Homo sapiens: one gene and its partner. The protein of the gene in region 2 interacts with the protein of the main gene of each other region in a pairwise test. Each region holds a gene or a part of one and is shown on either strand. Other genes may lie near its edges. The genes, in order: DISP1 and LAPTM5.

Region 1 (11,702 bases), about 190 Mb from region 2:
TAAGACAGGAAAAAATACATTTAAGAGGGATTTTCAACACCAACAGCAAAAGCTGAAATCAAAAGAGCTTTAATGTTAATATTCACTTAATTAAAAATTATACTATCCACAATTCCTCAATCCTAATCACTATGGCTAATCAATGGCTTACATACTTATATTCATGTCCTCTAGGCTGTGCCTTCCTTCTTCTCTGGCAGCTGCAGAGTAATCAGGCTGACTCCATGTTACAGCAAATTTTGGGTAGTGAATTTGTTGCCAACATTTAGAGAATTAATGGCTCCACATTCAAATCTGGATTCTTGGCCAGGTGCGGTGGCTCATGCCTGTAATCCCAGCACTTTGGGAAGTCAAGGCGGTATGGTCACCTAAGTTCGGGAGTTCGAGAGCAGCCTAACCAACACGGATGGAGAAACCCCGTCTCTACTAAAAATACAAAATTAGCCAGGCATGGTGGTGCATGCCTGTAATCCCAGCTACTCGGGAAGGCTGAAGCAGGAGAATCGCTTGAACCTGGGAGATGGAGGTTGTGGTAAGACAAGATTGCGCCATTGTACTCCAGCCTGGGCAACAAGAGCGAAACTCTGTCTCAAAAAAAAAAAAAATTCTGGGTTTTTGACCTCTGGCAAGTTCTTGCAACATTTGGGCCCTCATTTCTAGAACCCCATCTTTTGTCGCGGCTAAGTAGCAGCCGATTTCTTTCGACAGGGCAGATGTTCCTTAGTGTTCCACAATCACCATCACTTCTCCTGTCACACCTAGCTAGCTTTATTCACTTGGATTATATGCCAGGCCCCTGAGGCATTCAAACTTTGAACCTCTAGACTTTATTTTTTTCACCTCTCTACCTCTACTGCCTAGTGATGAGGTAACACACAGAAGGCTCTTAATATAGTATTGCTTTTTGAATGAATCAGAACTTTAAGCCATTTTCTGATTCACTTTAGAATGAATTGGAACTTTAAATAATTTTTTAATAATTCAACAGATTATTTCAAGGTTCAATGCAAAAATATGTACCTGTACTTGATCTAGAAATAAATAGTACAAGGAATTTTTAAAAAGACTTGAAATGTTGGGCAAGGTCAAGAATTTCATTAGATTTATATCTTCCTTAAAATAAGAAAACTCAATCATTACTTTTTCATTAATTTTAATAATATAATAAACTCAGACTAGTAGTTGACTAAACTAGAGAAGTAAAAGAAAAAGTTAATTAGCCAAAATTTCTTTAGGTTCAACAGCAACAGTGAAGCTGTGTGACTAGCCACACACGGCTATCAGTCTAGACTGTGATCATGTTCAATTTTAAATGCGAGCAAACTGCTGAGTGGTTTGTTCATCTACAATGTCACTCACTTGGAACGTCGCAGAAAAAGCTGTCCTTGTGGAAGTTCCAGTCAACTTCTCTTTTCTCTCTTTCATAATGATCATCTGACCATCTATCATCCCGATGGCTGAAATGGAACGACAATTTGATCTTCAATAAAGTTCTCGTTATTTCAAAGCTGATAAGCATACTGGAAACATTACTTCCTCAAAGCCATGACCTGCTTAGTCCTTGATATTAAGTTGAAAGGATTAGAAGAAGCAACCAACATTAATTTTCTCACTTCTAAAAAAGAAAAAAAAAAAGAAAATCTCACCTTTTCATCCTACTACAACAAAATCTTCAAACACAATGACAAGTTAAGCAAATTCAGTGGCAAAGATTTTGAGCCACACATTTTACATTTAAATTTTTTGTTTAGGCAGTATTTGAAGAGGAATTCATTCAGCAATGTTTTGTCTAAAAGTTATATAAAAATAAATAATTGATTACCTTTTGGCTTGTTCATCTGCATATTTAAAGGGATAATTTGCTAATGTTGCTTTGTATCCTGTATTTTTCACCATATTATTCCATGTGACCAATCTCTGGCCTATTGCTGTTCCTCTTGGTTCAAAACCCTAAGGCAAAATTACAGGTGCTCATTAGTATATTTCATTTCAGGCTAAGTACAGTTACAATAAAAGCTTGGGAAAGCAATGTCAAAGTGATATATAGCTTTCAACAGAAAATATAGCTGTTCCTCACAGCTACTCCAGAGGTGACTGCATTAAAACAAGATGCCTTGACATGATAATCATCACCTATTTGCTGTGACAAAACAGTTTGATTCTTTGGTATGTTACATGTCTAAAGAAAGTTTATCTTTCCAACTCATGCCTAAGCATTTAGTAAATACTTACTTTTATCTTATAAAAATTATGATCAAATTAAATCATGTTACGCACTGTATTTTTACAAAGAGTGTTTCATTATCCTTGATCATATTTTCCTCATTATTCCACTCCAGAGAAACATTTACTTAAAAACAGACTCTGTGATCTGTTAGTAATACTGAAATTCCTTTAACTTCTTTGGGAGAAAACAGAGACAGTGTTAAAGACTTTATGAGAATAATTTTGTAGAAGGCAGATTCTCCAATTTATTGCTTTTTAGCTTAAACATGGGGACCAAGAAGCAAACCTTCCAGATTTTTGAGGGTAAACAAGTTCCTTGACCTTTTAAGAACCTGATAATACAGATAAAGTCATGTCTTTACTTTTCAGAAAGAGAATTGTTGCTTGAGAAGGTTTTTAAAGAAATGGGTTACTAAATAACATAATGCAACATGTATTAAAATACACAATATTTGGAGATGATTTTAGGCTAAAGAAAACATAAAAGTTAGTTACCAGCAATGGATCAGAGAAGTCAGGGAGCTCTGGCACTAATACTCCAACCAAGGCACAGACTACGATGAACATGGTGCACATGCCCAAGACCACCACCGGCCAGTCGGCTATCAGGGCTGCATAACTACAAAACACAAAGAAGTGTCGGCTATCAGAGCTGCATAACTACAGAAACACAAAGAAGGCACAAAGAAGGCCCTTCGCAGAAATATTTTTGGTACCTAAGACAGCAATTTATTAAATCCTCATATTGTAGACTACATACAGGTGTTTATCAATACAATATCTAATGGGATTATAAATATTTGTATGTAATTGTAGTAGAAAGTTACAAGATCATTGTCCCCTCATTTTTGTGATCAAGTAGCACTTTATGCCACAGGCTATTGAGAGTCAGAATAATGTTCATATATGACAAGTAACATTTTATATCTACATCTATGCCTGTAAAGAGATATAAAATACACACTTCATCAGTGGAAAGAAAATAAATTTTAACAGAGGATCCATACTCCAATCAGTGTCTTTCAGAACTTTTGTTTCTCTAGTTATTCCCTTTCTCCACACCTTTACTCTCAGAGTTCTTAAACAGTGAGAGTCTATAAACAGGTTCATACAGTTCAGATCTTAAAAATAACCAAACTAAGGGCTGAGCATGGTGGCTCACACCTGTAATCTCAGCACTTTGGGAGGCTGAGGCGGGTGGATCACAAGGTCAGGAGTTCGAGACCATCCTGACTAACACGGTGAAACCCTGTCTTTACTAAAAATACAAAAAATTAGTTGGGCATGGTGGCACACGCCTGTAGTCCTAGCTACTTGGGAGGCTGAGGCAGGAGAATCACTTGGACCCGGGAGGTGGAGGTTGCAGTGAGCTGAGATCATGCCACTGCACTCCAGCCTGGGCGACAGAGCTAGATTCTGTCTCAAAAAAAAAAAAAACTAAACTAAACACTTCCCATAAACCTGTAACTTTCCTTCTAGCTAAAACTACAGTGAGCATATCCACTAGATATGTGAGTTCCATGAGAGCAGAAATTCTTGTCAGTGGAAGTTGATCAATAACTATCTATTGACTAAATGAACAAACATCTGATGCTTGTACTCTCCAGCTACTACAATCTGGTTTTAGTCTCTTCCCACATGTGCAGAACTGTCTCTATTACCAAATCCTAACACTGGGCCCTTTCTTCCAGATGCGCTTCCCACACCCTCATTTGTTACCTCAAATTGAAAGATCTGTTTCTGTATCCCTTCCATGAGGTCCTGGATCACACGTTATTATTTTGGCACTTCCAAGTCTTGATATGAGCTGAGTACCCAACAGAAGCTGACTAAACTGAACGTTTTCTAAAATTCAAAATGCATCCTGCAAACTTCTGGCTTCTTGAATCTTTATTAGAAGAAAAGCAAGACAAAATATTTAACTTGTGGACCACTACTCTCAAATTCTCAGTAATGTTAGCTCATTTGGCTGCTGCAATGGCTATTTCTGGCTCATTTGAAATAGGATTCTTACTCATATATTTTTGAGTTATTTCTTCAAAATCATGCTAGTAGTTACAAATAATTCTGGTGGCTCTAAATGTCAGTCTGAAAAAAAGCTACTATATGTCTCTAATAATAGACTGCCAATTTTTATAATCTGATGTCTTAACTTTATTGATCTGGCTTTGTGGAGATATTTGCTTCAAATTATAATTCTAGTAAGGATATTAAAATATAGAGCAATTATGCTTTAAGGGAGCATGTGCACAGGCACTTTTCACTGCTGCTCTTTTAAAGTAATCTTAAAAGGCCAGACACAGTGGCTCACGCCTGTAATCCCAACACTTTGGGACGCTGAGGCAGTCAGATCACCTGAGGTCAGGAGTTTGAGACCAGCCTGGCCAACATGGTGAAACTCTGTCTCTACAAAAATGCAAAAATTAACTGGGCATGGTGGCACACGCCTGTAGTCCCAGCTACTTGGGAGGCTGAGGCAGGAGAATTACTTGAACCCAGGAGGCGGAGGTTGCAGTGAGCAGAGATCATATCACTGCACTCCAGCCTGGGTGAGCAACACTCTGTCAAAAAAAAAAAAAAAGAGAAAGAAATAAAGCTATAAAGGAAGGAAGGAAGAAAAAAGAAAGAAAGAGAAGAGAGAGAAAGGAAGAAAAAAGAAAGAGAGAGAGAAAGAGAAATCTTATAAAAATAAATAAATAAATACAAGCTCGTCCTTATTCAGAATACCAGTTGCTCTTGTGCTTTACATAAATTATTATATTGTTCAATTCTCACAACAACCCTTGGAGATGAAACTGCAGCATTGACAAGTTATAGAACTTATTCAATGTCACAAAACTAGGAACCTAGATAGTCTGGTTCTAGTGTCAGGGCTTTTAATCTCTGGGCTGTCATTTCTTTCTTCAGACACAAGAGTAACTAGAAACATTAGGAATAACTACACTTGCCACAAATGTCTGTTTCCCAAAACTTACAATTAAAAATTCCTAGCCCTATTTATAGTTAATTTCTCTATGCAAAATCATATGGGTTCTAAGTTTGAACATTATTCACTAGACTGCAAATTTTAGATTTAAAAACTCATTCAGGAAAAATGACAGAATAACCTTTTAGAATAATTCTGAAAATAATAAAAACATTTAAGTGACAATAAGCTGATTGTGGTTGTTCAAATGTAAACACCAAGTGTCTAGAAGCTTTCACACTTCTAGGACACACCCTGTGCAAAAATATTCTCCTTACTTTATTTCCTCCTCCACAAAATGCAAACTAAGATGAAAGTAACTAGTTTTGAAGCAATAAAGTCCTCTGTCTCAATAGCACATTTGAGACTACTTTCATTGCTTCAGACTTAAAAAGAGTCCTTTACATTTTAGACCATTAAAATATCAGCCCTGTGAAATGAAAATGGCCCCAGGCTTATACAATTATTCATTACACTTTATTTTAAATGGATTCATTTTCTCTCAAATGAATCAGAAGTTATGCATTTTTACCTATTAACATGTTATCAATAGAGGGCAGTAGGCCCCAAATTGCTTAGTATTCATACTGTGGTTTAATTAACCCATATAATAACTTTTAATTTTGTGTTCTTGAAAATCTGCACACACGTATAGCAACGTTAAAAGCCCCATTCAATAATTGCTTTTCTTCCCTTTGAAAACATTTGGTTTTGATTTTACAGCACTGCTACACACCATATACGTGCACTGACTACATATGGAAACTTTATGGCATTAGTGATTTCAGCACATTTCTTCCAAACACGTTTAACCTCACTATATTACAATTCCACTTCCTTACACAGCCGATGTTTCCCACGCTAACCTTTCCTAGAGATAACTGTTCACATTTAAGTAATGGGATCACCATCCTGAGTATATAAAACACCATGGGGGAAAGCCCAATCATTCTAAGTAAATTTTACTCAAACAAGTATTTCTTCTCAACACCACAAAATTGCTGAGGCTAATTCTACTCCTCCTGCTATCTATGCAAATATATAGTATAGCTGTGGGTACCACATGGGAAACAGAGTTGCCTGCGCAATATGAAATCCAGACAATGGTTGTAATATGAAGATAAAAGTCTAATAAAGTAGGAAAATTGGAGAAGTAAAGGAAATTAAAAATAGTCTATAAATCTCACAAATATATATATATATTTGATGATGCTATATATATATATATATATCCATATCCTGTGCATTATTCTCTTTGAAAAGTGAACCACATGTAGAGTAGAAGAATTTTCAAAGGAACCATTCTTTTAACTATCATGTATTCTTCTGCATATCAAATCATATTTGTCTTTCATCCACCTTCTCTAATATTGAAAATCTTTAGACACCACAATATAACTGTAAATGTGGCCCACCTCTGTAACACCTGGCTTACAGCAGGTAGTCATTTTCCAGTGAAAGACCCTTTTCCCGGAGGCCCTACTGCTGTACTAGCTGCTGAGGTTAGGGACCACAACTCTTTACAGGGCACTGCTGTATAAAAGTTCACATCATCTTCTCAATAGGTTAAGTCTCTAATAGGAGACGGATCTGAAGGGCTCATTCTCCTTTTACAGAAGAAGGAACAGAAGTAGCAGAGGTAATGAAATGCGTTCGTGGATGAACCATGGATCTGAGTTAGCAGGCATGCTGCCTGGCGTTCTGGTCCAGGGTGTTACTGCCATGCTGGAGTTTTCACTGGTACTCAGTGGAAGTCCCTCAAACATAGTCAGAGATTTTCAGTCACCTTATTATTGGGTTTACTCTGGAAACAGATCAGAAATAACTGTTAAAACAAATAAACGAAGTATCTTATAGAGCCAGCTTATGCTCAAGTGACATTAAAATGGGGGCCAATTTTAAGTGGGTCATTTATATTACAATAACATTCCCCCATAATAAATTTTCCTCTTAGCTTACAAAGATTTTTTTTCCCTTGCTCTTTGCTGCCTTTCTCAAAACACTCTTCTTTTTTCTCTTCCCTCTGAGCAGAAAGCCGTGTTTCAGATGGTATAATTCAGTGCCCACACCAGAGGCTTCCTTTTCCTCACCGACCACCGGATCTTTAACCCCTTATAGCCTGGCTTTTGCTCTCATGACTTTTCTGAACTGCCCAAGTCAACTAACTATTCTTGGTTTTTACCTTCCTTGACCTGAGCAGAATTTAACACTGTTAGCTACCTCTTTCTTCCTAAAAATCCTTTCCCCGTTGGTGTATTCTTTTCTGTTTCTCTTAATAACTCTTTCTTATTCCTCTTGTCCCTTAAAGATAAGACATTTCAAAATGTTAAGTCATAACTTTTCCAGTGGCATCAACTATCAACTTAGTGAGAAGAGTGATTGAAGTTTGAGAAAATTAAAAAAAAAGAAAAGAATATACAACTCTTTTTCTTGTGAAGTAACAAATTCATCCAACAATTAGCATTAAACAATAAGGAAGCAAGGCATTCTGGGAATACAAAAATGGCAGACTTGGATCTTGCCCTCAGGGAATTTACAGCCTAATACAGAAAATAAGACAGGCACACAAATATCTACAAGACAGGTTAAAAAAAGTGTGTGCTTTTTGTTTTTTTCTTTCCCCCACCCCGAGACGGAGTCTTGCTCTGTCACCCAGGCTAGAGTGCAGTGGCACGATCTTGGCTCACTGCAACCTCCACCTCCCGGGTTCAAGCAATTCTCCCGCCTCAGCCTCCTGAGTAGCTGGGATTCCAGGCACCCGCCACCATGCCCAGCTAATTTTTGTATTTTTAGTAGAGACAGGGTTTCACCATGTTGGCCAGGCTGGTCTCGAACTCCTGACCTCGTGATCTGCCCGCCTCGGCCTCCCACAGTGCTGGGATTATAGGCGTGAGCCACTGTGCCCGGCCAAAAATATGTGTTTTTTAGAGGGGTACAGATGAAATGTTTTGTGAATTCAATAAGGGAAGCAATAAGTTCCAGCCAAGGTGGGAAAGGGGAATCAGGAAAGGCTTTGTTGAAGAAGTTATATTTATATGCACATGTACGTAAAAGAAATTAGAACTCTGTTTTAATAACACCAATTTAATAACAGAGAAAGAAATCTTTTCAAAGTAAAATTTTTAGTCATTTGCAAAAGCCCTATTTATAGAAAAGTAGAAATTTGTTTTCTTAATATGCCGTATTTACTTCCATACCTCTTTCCCTCATTTTTTCTTTCTCTCTTGTTTTTTTGCAAAAATGAAAAGGGAATTGGATAAACAAAATGTAGTATATACATACAATGGAATATTATTCAGCCTTACAAAAAGGAGATTCTAATACATGCTACATGAATGAACCTGGAAGAAATTACACTAAGTGAAATAAGCCAGTTCCAAAGGGACAAATACTGTAGGATTCGACTCATACGAGGTACTTACAGCAGTCAAACCCATAGAGACAGAAAGCAGAATGATGGTTGCTAGGGCCTGGGGGTAGGAGAAAATGGGGAGTTAATGTATAATGGGTACAGAATTTCAGTTTTACAACAGAAAAAAAGTTTTGGAAATGGATGGTGGTGATGGTTAGACAACAATGTGAATGTACATAATGCCAATGAACTGTACTCTTAAAAATAGTTAAAAGGCAACATATATGTTATATATACAACAAATATAAACATGTTATATATACAACATATATAACATATAAACATGTTATAACATTTAAAGTATGTCAACATGTTATATCTATCATATAAACCTGTTATATATAACATATAAACCTATGTTATATATAACATATAAACCTATGTTATATATAACATATATGAGTACGCTCTCTCTCTCTCTCTCTCTCTCTATATATATATATATTTTTTTTTTTTTTTTTTTGAGACAGAGTCTGGCTCTGCCACCCAGGCTTGAGTGTAGTGGTGTATTTCAGCTAAGCACAAACTGCTTCCTAAGCTCAAGAGGTCCTCCGACCACAGCCTTCCAAGTAGCTGGGACTACAGGTACAAACCACAATGCTTGGCTAACTTTTTGTATTTTTTTGTAGACACAGGTGTCCCCATGTTGCCTTGGCTGGTCTTAAACTCCTGACCTCAAGTGATCCGCCTGCCTCATCCTCCCAAAGTGCTGGGATTATAGGCGTGAGCCACTGCGCCTGGCCTATTATGTATATTTTACCACAATTTTAAAAATATATTTTTTTTTAAATAGAAGGAGAGTTTACTAATTAATATTTATGTAGTAATTTCACTTCAAAGACAGGATAACTCCCTTGAGGCAGGCTTCAGTGTTATCAGCATTTGAGCTTCTTTGGCAACTGAATTTCAAAGATCACTTAGAATTTCTTAAGTGTAATGACATTGTATCTGGAATTACAATGTGTAAGGACATCTGATGAGAAAACGCTTTTTTTAGGAACTCTTATCAAGTTAAAATTTTCTCTATTGAAAGATAAGCCTTAGACATTTCCACATAAAAGAATACTTCCATTGGTAACAAGATTTTTAAAAAGAAAGACAACCCCTCTGAAATAAACTGCCATGAATTCGAGTCATGGTAGTTGGCAGAACAGTATCTCTTTCCTCACTAAGTAAGCCAATCCGTTGCAGGAAGGAATGCAAAATAAATAAACAAATATAAATGTTTACGCACAAATATTTTTTTTTTTGAGATGGAGTCTTGCTCTGTCCCCCAGGCTGGAGTACAGTGGCACAATCCTGGCTCACTGCAACTGCCACCTCCCAGGTTCAAGCGATTCTCCTGCCTCAGCCTCCCGAGTAGCTGGAACTAAAGGCACGTGCCTCCACGCCTGGCTAATTTTTGTATTTTTGGTAGAGATGGGGTTTTGCCATGTTGGCCAGGCTGGTCCCGAACTCCCGACCTCAGGTGATCCACCCACTTGGCTTCCCAAAGTGCTGGGATTACAAGCATGAGCCACTGCACCTAGCCCTAGACACAAATAGAATTTAATAGGGTTAGAAATCTACCTTAAGATTAAAACCACTTTTGGAGATATGGAATTCCTCAAGCAGCCAACTCATGGGACATTTCTTTTTCTTTCATAAAAATATGAATGAGGAAAGTGAAAAGAACAGCAAAATACGGAGAAAATACTAGACTGGAAAAAGCATGCAGGTAAGTTTATTATTTAATAAGATGACCCAGATTACTTTACCTTTTTGGCAACTTGAAAGGTCTGGATGGTCTGAAAAAAAAAAAAGCAAAGGAAAAATGATCAAAAACAGAGCATCATAAACATCATAACATAAACAAAGGCTTTACATATGTGTTGAACATTTTACTTGTTATCTCTTACAAAGAATCTTGGAAGTGTTAAAAAAAAAAAGGCAATCTATTTGAGAGATTTTAAACAATGAATGTTGGCTACTTTACATACTAGTAGAGACAGCTCGAGTGGCTAGTCAGGAGGCAGAACCTTCCCAGACTCCGTATCACCCTCTCCTGATGGAATCATACTCACACTGTACAACATTCTTCTCTGAGATCTACAGCTACCAGATTCAGTCTTCTCTCCCCTAACAGGAATCCACATCCCTCAGTCTCCAATCTAAGCTGCTTCCTTACGTAGCAAAGATCCCAACACTTAAAAAAATTGGATATTAATACCTTCTTTTAGGTATTCTATTCCCTCTTCAAGATACCAGCTGCTTCTCCATTTTTCAGTTTCTTAATATCTAACTTCACAATCTACTTCAACAGATACGGGCTTGTATTTCCAATCAGCTCTTTCCCATACTGTTTTATTATTCCCACTCATCCTTTGTACCTTGCCTCCCAGATATAGGATAAGTTTGCTAAAGAAACTCCAAACTAAGTCTCAATCTCCAAACTTTGTATTCCTATCAGATTATTTTTTTCCTATTTACTGGAAAGCATTTAATAAATATTTGTTGAACAAACAAAAGTACACTGGTTATCACAGTGTGGTCTAAAGACAGCTGGGAGTTCCTGAGACCCTTTCATGGGGTTTGTGAGACCTCCCTTTTCCAACTACAGATGTGTGTAAAGCCAGATTTTCTTCATATACTTCATATATTTCAACCAAATGGCATATTGCCATAGATTGCAGAACAAATATGAGAATACGGCTTTTAGTAAGCCACATGTCAAAGAGATTTGCAAAAATGTAAAACAATGATACTTATCTTGCTAAACTTTTTTGTTTTGAAAAATGTAATTATTATTCACAAAATGTGTTATTTATGTTAACATGTAATGGGCTTATTATTTTTAATGAGTTTCATAATTTAATATTTGTCAGTTTCGATTCCAATATGGTACATATCAGCTAAACACATAAACAAAAGCTCTTTGAAGGTTCTCAACAATTTTTGAAACTGTAAAGGGGTTGCATGACCCAAAGTTTAGGAACCACTACACTAATTTATTGAGGATATATAAATATTTGCTGACTGAATAATTGAATTGCCTAGCTACATACTCTTTCTTAAAATGAAATCTTTCACCAGACTGTACCATACTTGGAGAAACAAAAC
Region 2 (11,917 bases):
TCGCTTTGGAGGGGGTCCAGCCTCTGGGTGCAGCTGCTTGGAGTAACCTGCCTGGTGCCGGGGCCTGGCTGAGAGGGGCCAGGCCTCAGAGAGCATGGATTTGGACACCTCTTTGATGTTATAGACAGGAAAACAGAAGTTGGAGTGGGGAAGTGGCCATTCCAAAGCCCCACAGCAATTCTGTGCTCCAGTCAAGACCAGAAACCAGGCTAGGAAGGCAGCAGGAGGAAGTGATGGAGAGCTGTCACTTGCTGAGATGCTCTTGTTCATGTGTGTCCTTGTTCACCGCCTCCTCTACTAGAATGTTTGCTCCATGAGACCAGGGACCTTGTCTGCCTTGTTCACTGCTATGTCCTGAGCACACAAAACAAGGCTCTTGTTGAAGGGATGAAGTCAGAAGGCCTGGGGAGGTTTTTTTCCCTCACATTACAAGATGTACAGAGAAAGGAGGTTCAGGGCTGGTGCAGAGGCTTCATGATGGCATCAGGGATCCCGGCTCTTCCTCTCTTTCCGCTCTGCATTAGGGTATCGTTTTTGTTCTCATGGTCCCCAAATGGCTTCTGTGCCTCCAGGCATTGCACCTGCATTTACAGAAGGTCGAAGGGAGTTAGGACAATGGGTAGAAGACATGTGCTTATGAAGTCTGTCCCTTTCAAATCAAGAAAGTTGCAGCTTTCCTAGAAGTGACTAAATCGCACACCATGTGTAGTAGTTCTCTACCTTGCTTCTTCTTCTTCTTCTTCTTTTTTAGGTATCTAAAGCCTGGCCCCAGATTTGGTCCTCAGTGGGGCCTATCACTTTTGTTGTTTGCTAGTGGTTGTTGTTTCATTTTTTAAAATAAAAATCCCCTAGCTGGGGGAATGACCTAATGAGGTAACTCCTACTGTGGTGTTGATGGCAGTTGTGCTATTTTGCCACCAACTTCTTAAGGTGCCTGGATCTCTGAGGTTTTTCCTGAGGATGAGGTCAGCAGCAGGGAGGAGGGGGCTCTGGCAGAGGCTGGTGCTTAGGAGGGAATTACCTAGTCCTTGCAGCAGCACACTGGATGCGCTATGACAATCCCCACTCTACAGCTCAGAGTGAGGCAGAGGCTGGTTGGAGACCAGGGCCAGGAGGGAGCCGGGTTTTCCAGCTCCCCATGGATAGTACGGCTGCACCCATGATCTAAAATGCTCCGTCCTGGGGTGTGCCCAGAGCTGTTATTCAGCAGGAGGCTGCTGGCTCGGCTATGCAGACTTTGCAGCCAGTGCTCCTTCTGCCTGCTGGTCCCATCTCCCTGGAGCCTTCAGCCTGCAGTGCCTGTGGCAGCAGCAGACTAGGATATGGTGTCATTGTGCCCCTGGGTGCAGCCAGGGACCCCTGGACTGCCTGGCTGAGGGGAGGCCTCCTTGGAGTGTCTGGCAGACCGTTGGGGTCCCCTGCCTGCCCACTGGACTCAGCAGCTGGTCATTGGAAGGTCTGGTTGTCCCCAGGCCACAGGCCTGTGGGCTGTCCTTGCCAGGCTGACCCTCCAGGCTGACTTCAAGGCCTGGGCCCCTTCCACAGGCAGGGGAGTAGGGGAGGGACCCTGTGGGTTGCACGTGTAGGCCCTGACCCCTGGTGACCGTGCTGGGTTCGGGGCAGGAGACAGGAGAGAATGCTCTGCCGTTTCTCACATTTTTCAGGCCTTTGGCTTTGGCCCTACACATTCCAGCCCCAAACCTCAAAGGCAGAAGTGAGGTGGGGCTTGCAGCCAGAAGGGAATCACAGGCCAGTGGTCTGGCAGGAAGCTGACCTTCAGCCTGGGTGAGCTGCAGGGGGCACCCAGGAGCCCCTCGGGAGAAGACAGCCCTGGAGCTACCTTGGCTGCCACCACTCACATGCCGCCCACGAAGCTGTCCCCAAGGAGGACCTGTGTCCTGGCTCTGCTCCTGACCAGCTGTGTGTCTTGCAGCAGATCACTGGCCCCTTGGGTCTACGGGAGCTGATCAGTGCCTCTCTGCTGCCTTCCTCTGCTGGCTAGGGCTGGGGGAGGCTCAGCTGAGAAAGGGTTTAAAGGACAGGAAGAATCATAGTGACAATCGTGATCAAAATGCTTCCCACTGTGCAGTCCTTACCGTGACCCAGCCCCTTCTAAGTGCTTCATCTAGGTTAATGGAAAGGACACAAGACTCCCAAACTCTTTGTTTAAATACAAAAGCTGGCAGAGTCGTGGGTTTTATTTTTACCTCCAGGCCTATGGGTGAAGAGGGAAGTTCCAGTGATGTTCTTCTGACTTAACAAAGAAAGCTTACAACTAATTCTGCCTTTGAGGAAACAGAGCTGTCTGTTTAAATATTCATATACCATGGCAGCAAATTATTAAGCCAGATAACCAGCCAGAATTACAGACCTTTTCAGGATTAAAGATGACTCTCTAGGATCTGGGAACCATGTCTGAAGTCAGGGGGTCTTAGAAGATTCCTTTGTCAGAAATAACATTGACAAGGGCAGTTTGACAAGCAGATTTGTATCTGCTCTGCCGTGGCTGCGGTGGCATGGAACATTTCCTTGTCCTTATCTTGATGAATTCAGAGGGTCTGAAGTTTTCAAGGGTTCTACCACTCCACAAAGAAGGTATGAAAAGCAACTTGAAGAAGCTCAAAACTTATCATTCGTAACGGAAAACAGCAGAATATAAATAGTGAGCTTATGTGGTGTTGCCACCTGCATGTACAGACAACGAGATGGGCATTATCATTATCCCCGCTTGGCGCAGGAGGAAGCGGAGGCTCAGGGAAGTTCACGACTTGGCTGGGGTCACACAGCAAGGAAGTAAGGGCTGCACTTGTGCAGATGGGGACTGTGGTCTCGGTGGAGTGTGTTGGGCTCCAGCGACGGGGCCCCAGGCTCAGCTGTTGCTTCCACTGAGCAGCTGTATTTGTTCCCTGCGGCCGCTATAATAAAAGACCAGAAACACAGTGACTACAACAGACATTTATTGTCTTACAGTTCTGGAGGCCAGAAGTCAGGAATGCGCCTCGCTGAGCTAAAATGAAAGTGATTCCCTTTCGAGCCTCTAGAGGAGAAGCCATTTCCTTGCCTTTTCCAGTTTCTGGATGCCGCCTGCACTCCTTGGCTCATGGTTCTTCCTCCAACTGCAGAGCCAGGAGTGTGGCATCTTCCACTCCCTCTCTGACTCTGATCTTCCTTCACTTATGGGGACCCATTTGATGACCTCAGGGCCATCCAGATAATGCAGGATAATCTCCCCACCCACCTCAAGATCCTGAATTTCATGGCGCCTGTGAAGTTTCTTTGCCATGTAAGGCCATGTACGCACAGGTTCCAGAGATTAGGGTGGATTTTTTTTGGGGGGTGAGAGGCACTATTCTGCCTATCACAGTGGCTTTGGCCAAAGGGTCTGACCTTTGGGATAATAGCCGTCCTCTCCACAGGGGGTTTGTTGGGAATGACAATAAAGTGATTCAGGCTTGTACTCCACAGGGAGTGACTGAGGTGCCTGCCAAGGGGCCAGTGTGTGCTGGAGCCTGGTGACCCGGTGAGAGACAAATGACTGCATCAGAACTCCTGCTTCTGCGAGGGAGGTAGTGCCCGAGGGGACTCAGAATCAGACAGATCAGGGGTTCAATCCCAGCTCTGCCTCCTCCTAGCAGCCTGAGTACGGGTGAGATCGGGGAGCAGGGACGGGCTGGAAGGGAGAAAACAAACAGATGCATTCACGTGACCTCATTTCACCTTCACCGCAGCCCTGCCAGGCAAATTTCTGTTCCCCCCAACCGCCCCGCCGTTTTGCAGAGGTGAAAACAACAGCTCAGAGAGATCAAGTGCCTTGTCTGACACCACACAGCTACTAAGTGGGGAGCTGGGATTCCCCATGCCCCAGGATTCCCAAACGGATGCCACCTACTCCACCTCCAGGGCTGTCTGCCACATCTGCGTCCTCCTAGGCTGTGGCTTCCTTAATATGTTCTTTAAATTGACTTACTGCCTTTTTTATTTAAATGCATTTCTTTTAAAATGAGACTTTATATTACTCCTATAAATGGAAAATCACAGGATTCATGGACTAGTTATGTATATTTTTATAATGCACATTAAAATGAATTTATCACCATAAAAAATGAGAAATGTTTACCCATAGACCATGTACAATTATTCCACATGCTGTCAGTGTGTTTCATCCCTCTCTTTGGGAGTTGGCTTTGCACCTGTCCTGGTTTCACCAAATCACAATGTTATGAATGGCTATCATTTATTATGGTAGGAAATCGTCAAATGGCTTCTGTGCACAATCAAATGCAGACTCCCCAGCATGGCCTCAGGGCCCTCCTGGCCCCTGGTTTCCTGATCTCCAGTTCCTCTGGTCTTGCTACTCTTAGACAAAGGAGGACTTCTCTTGGTTTTCTGCCTACCCAGCCAGAAGATCCCAGGCCATGGGCCTGTGGAGCCAAAGTTCTTAACCACTGCACTGTGTCACCTTTCTATGATGTCAGGCCTCAGCAAGGCTTATGAAGGAACAGGAACAGCCTTGAAAATGAAGTTGGGAAGGGATAGGCCAGGCCTCCCAGGAGCCCAAAGCTTGCAGAGTCCCCTTGGTCTCATTGGCACATGGAGAATGGATTGATCAAGTCCACCAATCAAGTTTTGTGGGTCTAACAGAGCAACTCCTGCCAAGTGGGAGGAGCTTAGGGACTTTCTATAACCTCTCCTGGGGCAGAAATGATGGGCTGCAGCAGTGTCCAATCCTAACTCCATGATCTCCTGGGAGGGCAGGGCTTCATGGCAGTTCCTGTCTGCTCTGCACTAGAAGCTTGGCATTGCAAAGGGGCTCAGCTGTGGAATGAAGCAGGGCTTCTTCCAGAAATGTTGCATGTACTTCCTATTCCCTTTCTTTATTGCAATATGGATAATTTATCATCTGAGGAGGGAGTAGAGATTCCAGGGTAGCTTGCCTAAGAGTTGTGGCTTATTAATTCCAACTTTTTGCAAGATCAAGGGGGAAAAGCAATCCCTGATTTTGTGTGAGTATGGGGATTGGGTCTTGAGGCCCTGAAAGTGAGGTTCGGGTCTCACAGATTGCTGTGAAGAGTTATTGACCCACCTAGAAGAGAAGCCTAGCCCAGGGCCTGGCGCACAGTTGATGGGTTTGCTTCCTGGTTATTCTTCCGTCCTTGTCTGGAGCCCTGCACGCCTCTTCGTAGCTTAGGAAGAACAAGCTTCTCCCTGCGGCTCAGGGTGAGGAAGTGGGAGAGAACACCAGCTCCAGGGAGGCTTCTAGCACCAGTCAGCCTCAGTTAAAATCCTTGCACCTTCATTGACTAGCTGTGTGACCTTGCACGAATCATTCCCCCTCTCTGTGCCTCAGTTTCTTCATCTGTAAAATGGGGATCATAATAGTACCTCTCTCAAAGGATTGAGGTGAGGATGAAAGGAGTGAATCCAGGAGCATGCCTGGAAGAGGCAGGAAATGCCTCCTAGACAATAGCTATTTTTGCAGCCAGACAGATCTGGGTTTGAATTCTGCCACCAGTGCTAACTACTGTGTGATTTGGGGCAAGTGCCTTGACCTCTCTGGACAGCTGTTTCCTCATCTGGAAATGGGCTTGGTAACAGTCCTGGCTTCCAAAGTTGGTAGTGTTCTTCTAGTAAGCAAGCTGTGTGAAACGGTGGAACCCTGGCCCTGGTGCAGAGAAGGGCATGATGACCGTGTTAGGGTCTGTCCTCTCTGGAACCCCCTCCTGGGAATGGCAGAGGGCAGTGGGGTGCTCTGAGGCAGGCTGCTGCCCTGTCCCCACTCCCCCTCCCCAGCTGCCCCGCCCCAGCTGTGACGACCTTGTCCCTGCCTGTCTAAGGGGCAGGAAGGAAGTGAGGAGGGCAGCCAGCAGCTTCCCCTTCTCTGCCCTGCTCCAGGCACCAGGCTCTTTCCCCTTCAGTGTCTCAGAGGAGGGGACGGCAGCACCATGGACCCCCGCTTGTCCACTGTCCGCCAGACCTGCTGCTGCTTCAATGTCCGCATCGCAACCACCGCCCTGGCCATCTACCATGTGGTGAGTGTGCGGGCCCCGGGTGTGTGTGCGTGCGTGCTTGTGTGAGTGTGAATGTCTGCGGTGACCCGTCATCTACGGAGCCCCACAAATGAAAGAACTCCTGCTCTCCACCTCTCTGGGGGACCCTGGGCAAATCCCTGTCCTGCTCTGGGCCTCAGTTTCCTTCTCTGTCAAATGGCTGGGGGTACCCTGGGGAGATGCCGCAAGAGTGAGGAGTAAGGGAGCTGGAATCCACTTTCCAGGCAAATGTAACTGACGTTCACTCCGAGGCTGGCTCCGTTTCTGCCTCTGTGAGATGGGGCACAGCAGCAGCCGGAAGGTTATTTGTGTGCAAAGCCAACAGCAGATGTGAAAGTGCTTTGGAAGGCAGGGATCTTGGGAGGAACGTGGGCTGGGATTGTTTGACCGGGATGTGAGGTCGGCCGCAGACACAGCCCCGATTCTTCCCCTGGGGCCTGGAGGGAGCCTGGGCCACTCGAGGGGATGAGAAGTGGGGATCTCCCCTTTGTGCCTCCAGTGGGGAGGCAGGGGCCGTGTCCTCTCAGCTTCCAGCTCAGTCAAACCACGGCCTTCTGCCCACCAAAGAGAACTTGAGACCTGTGCTAATCATTAGGGTAACTTGTCCGGCCCAAGCTCTTGTTGGGCAACTTGTGAAGTCACGGCTGTCACTGGTTCCTCCTTTCCTGGTGACTCACAGTGTGGTCTTGGGCAAGTCACAGTGCCCGGGGGCCAAGGCTGCCCCTCTGCCTGGGGTGGCTGAGGGTCAGTGTCCTTGTACTGTCCTGCCTAGACCCACCCTACTCCCAAACTCCTGGCCACACTCATCTCCCCTAGACCCAAGCGACTTCCTCCTGGGGTGACTCAGGGCCTGTGGTTAACAGTTTTCTCATGAGTCTGGAAGGGCTTCCTCAAAATTAGCCTAGATCCACATGCTGCGGTGGGTTGCTGCAAACTCAGACCTGCCTGCGTCTGCTTCCTGTCACAGGCAGGGCAGGCAGAGCTGTGGCAAGAGCCCAGCCTTCAGGGGGGCGATGCTGTTCAGTGGTTAGCCCACGGCCTCTGGATGCAGACTCCTGCATGCAAATCCTGGCTTCCCTGCTTCCCAGCTCTGCAGCCTTGGGCAATTTACTTAACCTCTCTGAGCCTCAGTTTTCTCATTTAAAAAAATGGGGATGTGAATTATCATACCCATCTGATAGGGTTTGTTGTGAGGCTCAGGGAGTTGATACATACAAAGCATGCAGAACCACGCCTGACGCACAGGTGAGTGCTTTATTATTCGTTGTGCATCAGACATGGCACCTGCTGTCAGCATCCTTGGAGTCAAGTTGTCAGATTCAAGGACTCTAGTTTTGGGAGGAGGAACTCAGAGGTTGTCCTTCCGAGCTCCTGCCAATGCAAGAGCTGAGAGAAGCAAATCACTCTTTGAGTGTCCCTGTACCCTGTATTTTAGGCCTTCAAGCTCTGAGACTATGCACATTCTTAGAAGGACAGTGTGGCATGCAGGGGCGCCTCACAGGTAGCAAGTCCCTGGGTCCTCACCCCAGCCCTGCCACTAACTGGCTGTATGGGCTCAGACAAGCCTCTCTCTGGGCCTCAGTTTCCCTTTTATAAAGTCAGGGGTAAGGTGATGTTGACTGGCTCAGAGGTCTCCAACTCTGATGCCTCTAGGGTCTGGGCAGGCCATGTGAGTGACAGCAGGGGGCAGATGGGGCCTGCGGTGACCCCGGGAGCCCTTGCTTGGCCCACCCTGCAGCTGTTCTCTGTTTTTGCTTGTTGTTGCCACGAAGGATTGTGGGCCCTGGTGGCCGCTCTTCTGATGTTTAGAGAATAGGGAGCAGGCTTTTGTGTCACATCTTCTGATGTTTCAATGCTAGTGATTGATGCATGGTAGAAAAAAATCTCAGTGCAGGCCAAGTCAAATCCATTTGCAGGTTGTGTGGGCCCAGAGGCTGCCCTGCAAACCCGGGACTGTGGGGCTGTTAAGGTTTCTTGTTGATCGTGCCATCCGATGTCCTCACCTGTAAATGGTGGTGTGATATACGGTCCCTGCTCACAGAGCTGAAGAATGTGTGGGCCCTAGCAATCATGGAAGACTTCTTGGAGGTGGTGCCATTGGCAGGAGGGAGAGTTTGGTTGTGGGCAGTATGGAAGGTGAGGAGAAACAGGTGAGCAATGGCGTATGTGTTCGGCTTCTACAGGGACACAATAGAGACAAACCTGGAGTTTGGGGAGGAGGTGATAAAGGTTTTGAGTGACAAGCTAAGAAGTTGGATCTTCTCTGCAGTGCACCATTGATATTTTGGGCTGGATAATTCTTCATCTTGGGGGAGTGAATTGTGCGTTAGAGGAAGTTCAGCAGCATCCATGGTCTCTACCTACTAGATACTAGCAGCACTGCCCATCTCCCTACCCTGCCACTTGTGATAACCAAAAATGTCTCTAGTTATGGGGCCCAATCTCTCCCAGTTGAGAACCAATGCCTATGAGTGATGAGACGTTCTAGAGCAGGAGCAAGCAAAAGAGCAGAGGGGTGTCCTGGAAGCTGTGCGCTCGGCCCAGGTTGTCTCCAGGCTGTGGTCCTCAGTTGACTCCAGTGGGGGGTTATCTTCCTGCACCCCGAAAGAGTCCTCTCTCCTTCCCAGAAAGGGCAGGGCCTGGGGGCTTTCCCATAGGCTAGCTGGCAACAGGTGTGCTGATAGGACCTTGAGCATCTGGATGGAAAAAGAGAAGCTGTGGTCCAGATGTGTCAATAGCCCATGCTGGCTGTCATCTGGACCCAGCCATGGGTGACGACTCTGCACATCATGAGCTATTTGTGGACTTGGCCCCTCTAGGGAGGGTTAAATTGAGACCTTGCCATCCTGAGACAGTGCCACGCTCTATTGAGTCATGAGGGCGTTATTACATGAGGGAAGCCTGGTCCGTAGCTTTGGGCTCGGGCATCTTCCTCAGGATGTCAGTGGGTTTGTGTAGAGGATTCTCTGGGTCACCCAAACTTGCACACTTTGGGAACCCAGCAAACTTTCTTTCTTTTTTTAAAAAATCTATTCTTTTTTTCAAAGTTCAGTAACTTGCCCATCTTTTGTGGTTTGATTTGTTTTGTTTTGTTTTTGTTTTTAAGAGATGGGGTCTTGCTCTGTCACCCAGGCTGGAATGCAGTGGTGCCATCACAGCTCACTGCAGCCTTGAACTCCTGGGTTCAAGAGATCCTCCCACCTCAGCTTCCTGAGTAGCTAGGATCACAGGCGCATGCCACCATGGCCAGCTAATTTTAAATATTTTTTTTTGTAGAGACAGGGTCCCACTATGTTGCCCAGGCTGGTCTCAAACCCTTGGCCTCAAGTGATTCTCCTGCCTTGGCCTCCCAACGCGCTGGGATTACAGGCATGAGCCACCGAGCCCAGTCTAGAGAAATTTCTTAAATTGGGTCTCTTGGGTCCTGGCTTTTTGTCAACCTGAAGCACGTTCTAAGTCGATGGTAGAAAGTGGACACCCCCAGAAGACACTTTTGCCCAGAAATCTCTTTCTTCCTGACCCCTCTTCCCCAGAGTGCCCGGAATTCCACTGTCAGAAATGCATTGTCTGGGTTAAAAAACTTAACACCTGCTATGATTTCAACAGTGTCAAAACAGGATACGTCAAAACTGGGCGAGGAGGAAATGTATTTGGGTTCTAGGATAGTGAAAGCTCTATTTTTTCTACTTTTCTGTATTTTCCATATTTGGTACAATGAGCACGTACTTAGAACGGTTTTAGATTTACGAAAATATTGCAAACACAGTACAGATAGTTCTTGCGTCCCCCATGCCTAGTTCCTCTATTGCTAACGTCTCAACGTTAGTGTGGTGCGTTTGTTGCAATGGGTGAATGAATATTCGTGGGCTGTTATTAAAGTCAGTGCTTCACCCCTATTTCCCCAGCTTTCCTCTTACATCCTTTTTCTGTTCCAAGATTGCATCCAGGATGCCGCGTTACATTTAGTCTTCACACTTCCTTAGGTTCCTCTTGGTATGATGGTTTCTCAGATTTTTCTTGTTTTTGATAATCTTGACAGTTCGAGGAGTATTTGTCAGGCATTTTGTCAAATGTTCTTCAACTGGGGTCTCTGGTGGTTTTCTCATGATTAGTCTGGGAATGTGCTTTTGGGAGGAAGACCACAGAGATGATGTGCCAGTCTCAGAACATCGTACTAAGAAAAGGTTCTGCCAACTTGACTTACCACTGTTGCTGGTGACTTTGAGCCCCCGGCTGAGGTTACTCCTTTGTAAAGTTACTCTTTTTTTCTCCTTTCCATGCTGTATGTTTTAGAAGGAAGTCACTATGCTGCTCCAAGCAACTCAAGTTTGATGAATGGGGAGTTCCGCCCCACCTCCTTGAGGGCAGAGTAGCTACATAAATTACTTGGAATTTCTCAAGGAGATTTGTCTGTACTCCCAGTTTATTATATAAATAAATGATTTATTTATATTACAGGGACCCAGGGATCTTTACTGTATGCTTTGGGTTATAATCCAATGGTACTTTACTTTGTGGCTCAAGTATACTACTTTTAAATTGGAAAAAAAAAAAAGTACGGCCAGGTGCGGTGGCTCATGCCTGTAATCCCAGCATTTTGGGAGGTTGAGGCGGGTGGATCACTTGAGGTCAGGACAAAACCCTGTCTTTACTAAAAATACAAAAAATTAGCTGGGCATGATGGCGGGAGCCTGTAGTCCAAGCTACGCGGGAGGCTGAGGCAGGAGAATTGCTTGAACCTGGGAGGTGGAGGTTGCAGTGAGCCGAGATCGCGCCACTGCGCTCTAGCCTGACAGAGTGAGACTCTTTAAAAAAAAAAAAGGTAAAGCATTCAAATCATAGTATTTGAAGAAGGAGTCTCTATTGCCCTGACCTCGTGCAGGTAAGTTCACCCATGTGCCCAGCCCCAGGCCGGGATACAGCCCTGACTCATTCACGGCCTCTGCCCTTGAGGGGCCAGTCTGCCAAGGAAAAACCGACGAGGACAATGGATGACATTGCTGGCTATGATGGGGGCACAGATGTAGGGCTGGAGGTTGGGATTCTGGAATAGCTTCTTGGAGGAGGTCTGAGTCTTAAGGATGAGTAGGGCTTTGCTTGGGCACCTTGGAAAAGAGGTCACGCTGGGCGGGGGGAGTAGCATGACACAGGCTTGGAGGGGAAGGACCCTGCAGTGCTTCAGAGACCTAGCAGGTTTGTCAAGCTGGGTTAGGAGGGGTGGCCACGAGGTGTGTCGGGGAGGAGGGTGGAGAGGTCCCCAGGGGTGGGACCTGCCCGAGTCCTTTGCTTTTACAAGCTTCAGAGCTAAGAAGATGGATCTCTCTTCGGCCTATCAGCTCATTTTGCAGATGGGAAAACAGGTCCAGCAGGGCCCCTTACTTGCTCCAGGACACATGGAGAGATGGGGCAGGAGCTTGCTTCAGGTCCCCCTGCTGGCACACAGGTGTGTGGAATGATCCAGAAAGTGGGCAAATGAGTTCCTTCCCTGCCCCATGGCTGGGGTGGTGTGTCTGTCTGGGAGGCCCTGCCCTCATCCAGCCTCCCACCATTCATTTCTTCTTTATGGTCCAGTTTACGGGAAGCTTCCTCCTCCAGGAAGCTCTCCTGATTTGTCCTCCTTAGAACTCCTGGGGCTCTTTTCTCTGCTCCACTTTGGGGGCAGTGATTTGTGATTGAAAGGAACACAGGCCCATCTCCATTACTTACCAGCAGTGTGACTTGAGCAGGCGGGCACCTTTGTTATCTGAGCCTTGCCTTCCTCATCTGTAAATGGGGCCAGTGGTCCCTGCCTCAAAAGTGATCATTTGGAGGAGACCCTAGCGAAGCCGGGTGGAGGGCTAGCAGGTGAGTGCCTGAAGTGGGCTGTGGAA

What was found.
Region 1: the proteins of LAPTM5 (region 2) and DISP1 interact in binary tests that used the Homo sapiens proteins (3 or more experiments, as listed by UniProt).

The regions. Positions count from the first base shown.
Region 1 is NC_000001.11:222,981,768-222,993,469, reverse strand, and holds part of DISP1 (protein dispatched homolog 1), read right to left. Parts: intron 10,391-11,702; coding exon 10,361-10,390; intron 4,115-10,360; exon of another isoform or gene 3,946-4,114; intron 2,846-3,945; coding exon 2,722-2,845; intron 1,951-2,721; coding exon 1,823-1,950; intron 1,616-1,822; exon of another isoform or gene 1,520-1,615; coding exon of another isoform or gene 1,458-1,519; coding exon 1,360-1,457; intron 1-1,359. UniProt on the Homo sapiens protein: Functions in hedgehog (Hh) signaling. Regulates the release and extracellular accumulation of cholesterol-modified hedgehog proteins and is hence required for effective production of the Hh signal. Synergizes with SCUBE2 to cause an increase in SHH secretion.
Region 2 is NC_000001.11:30,751,771-30,763,687, reverse strand, and holds the start of LAPTM5 (lysosomal-associated transmembrane protein 5), read left to right. Parts: upstream 1-5,913; 5' UTR 5,914-5,942; coding exon 5,943-6,029; intron 6,030-11,327; exon of another isoform or gene 11,328-11,917. UniProt on the Homo sapiens protein: May have a special functional role during embryogenesis and in adult hematopoietic cells.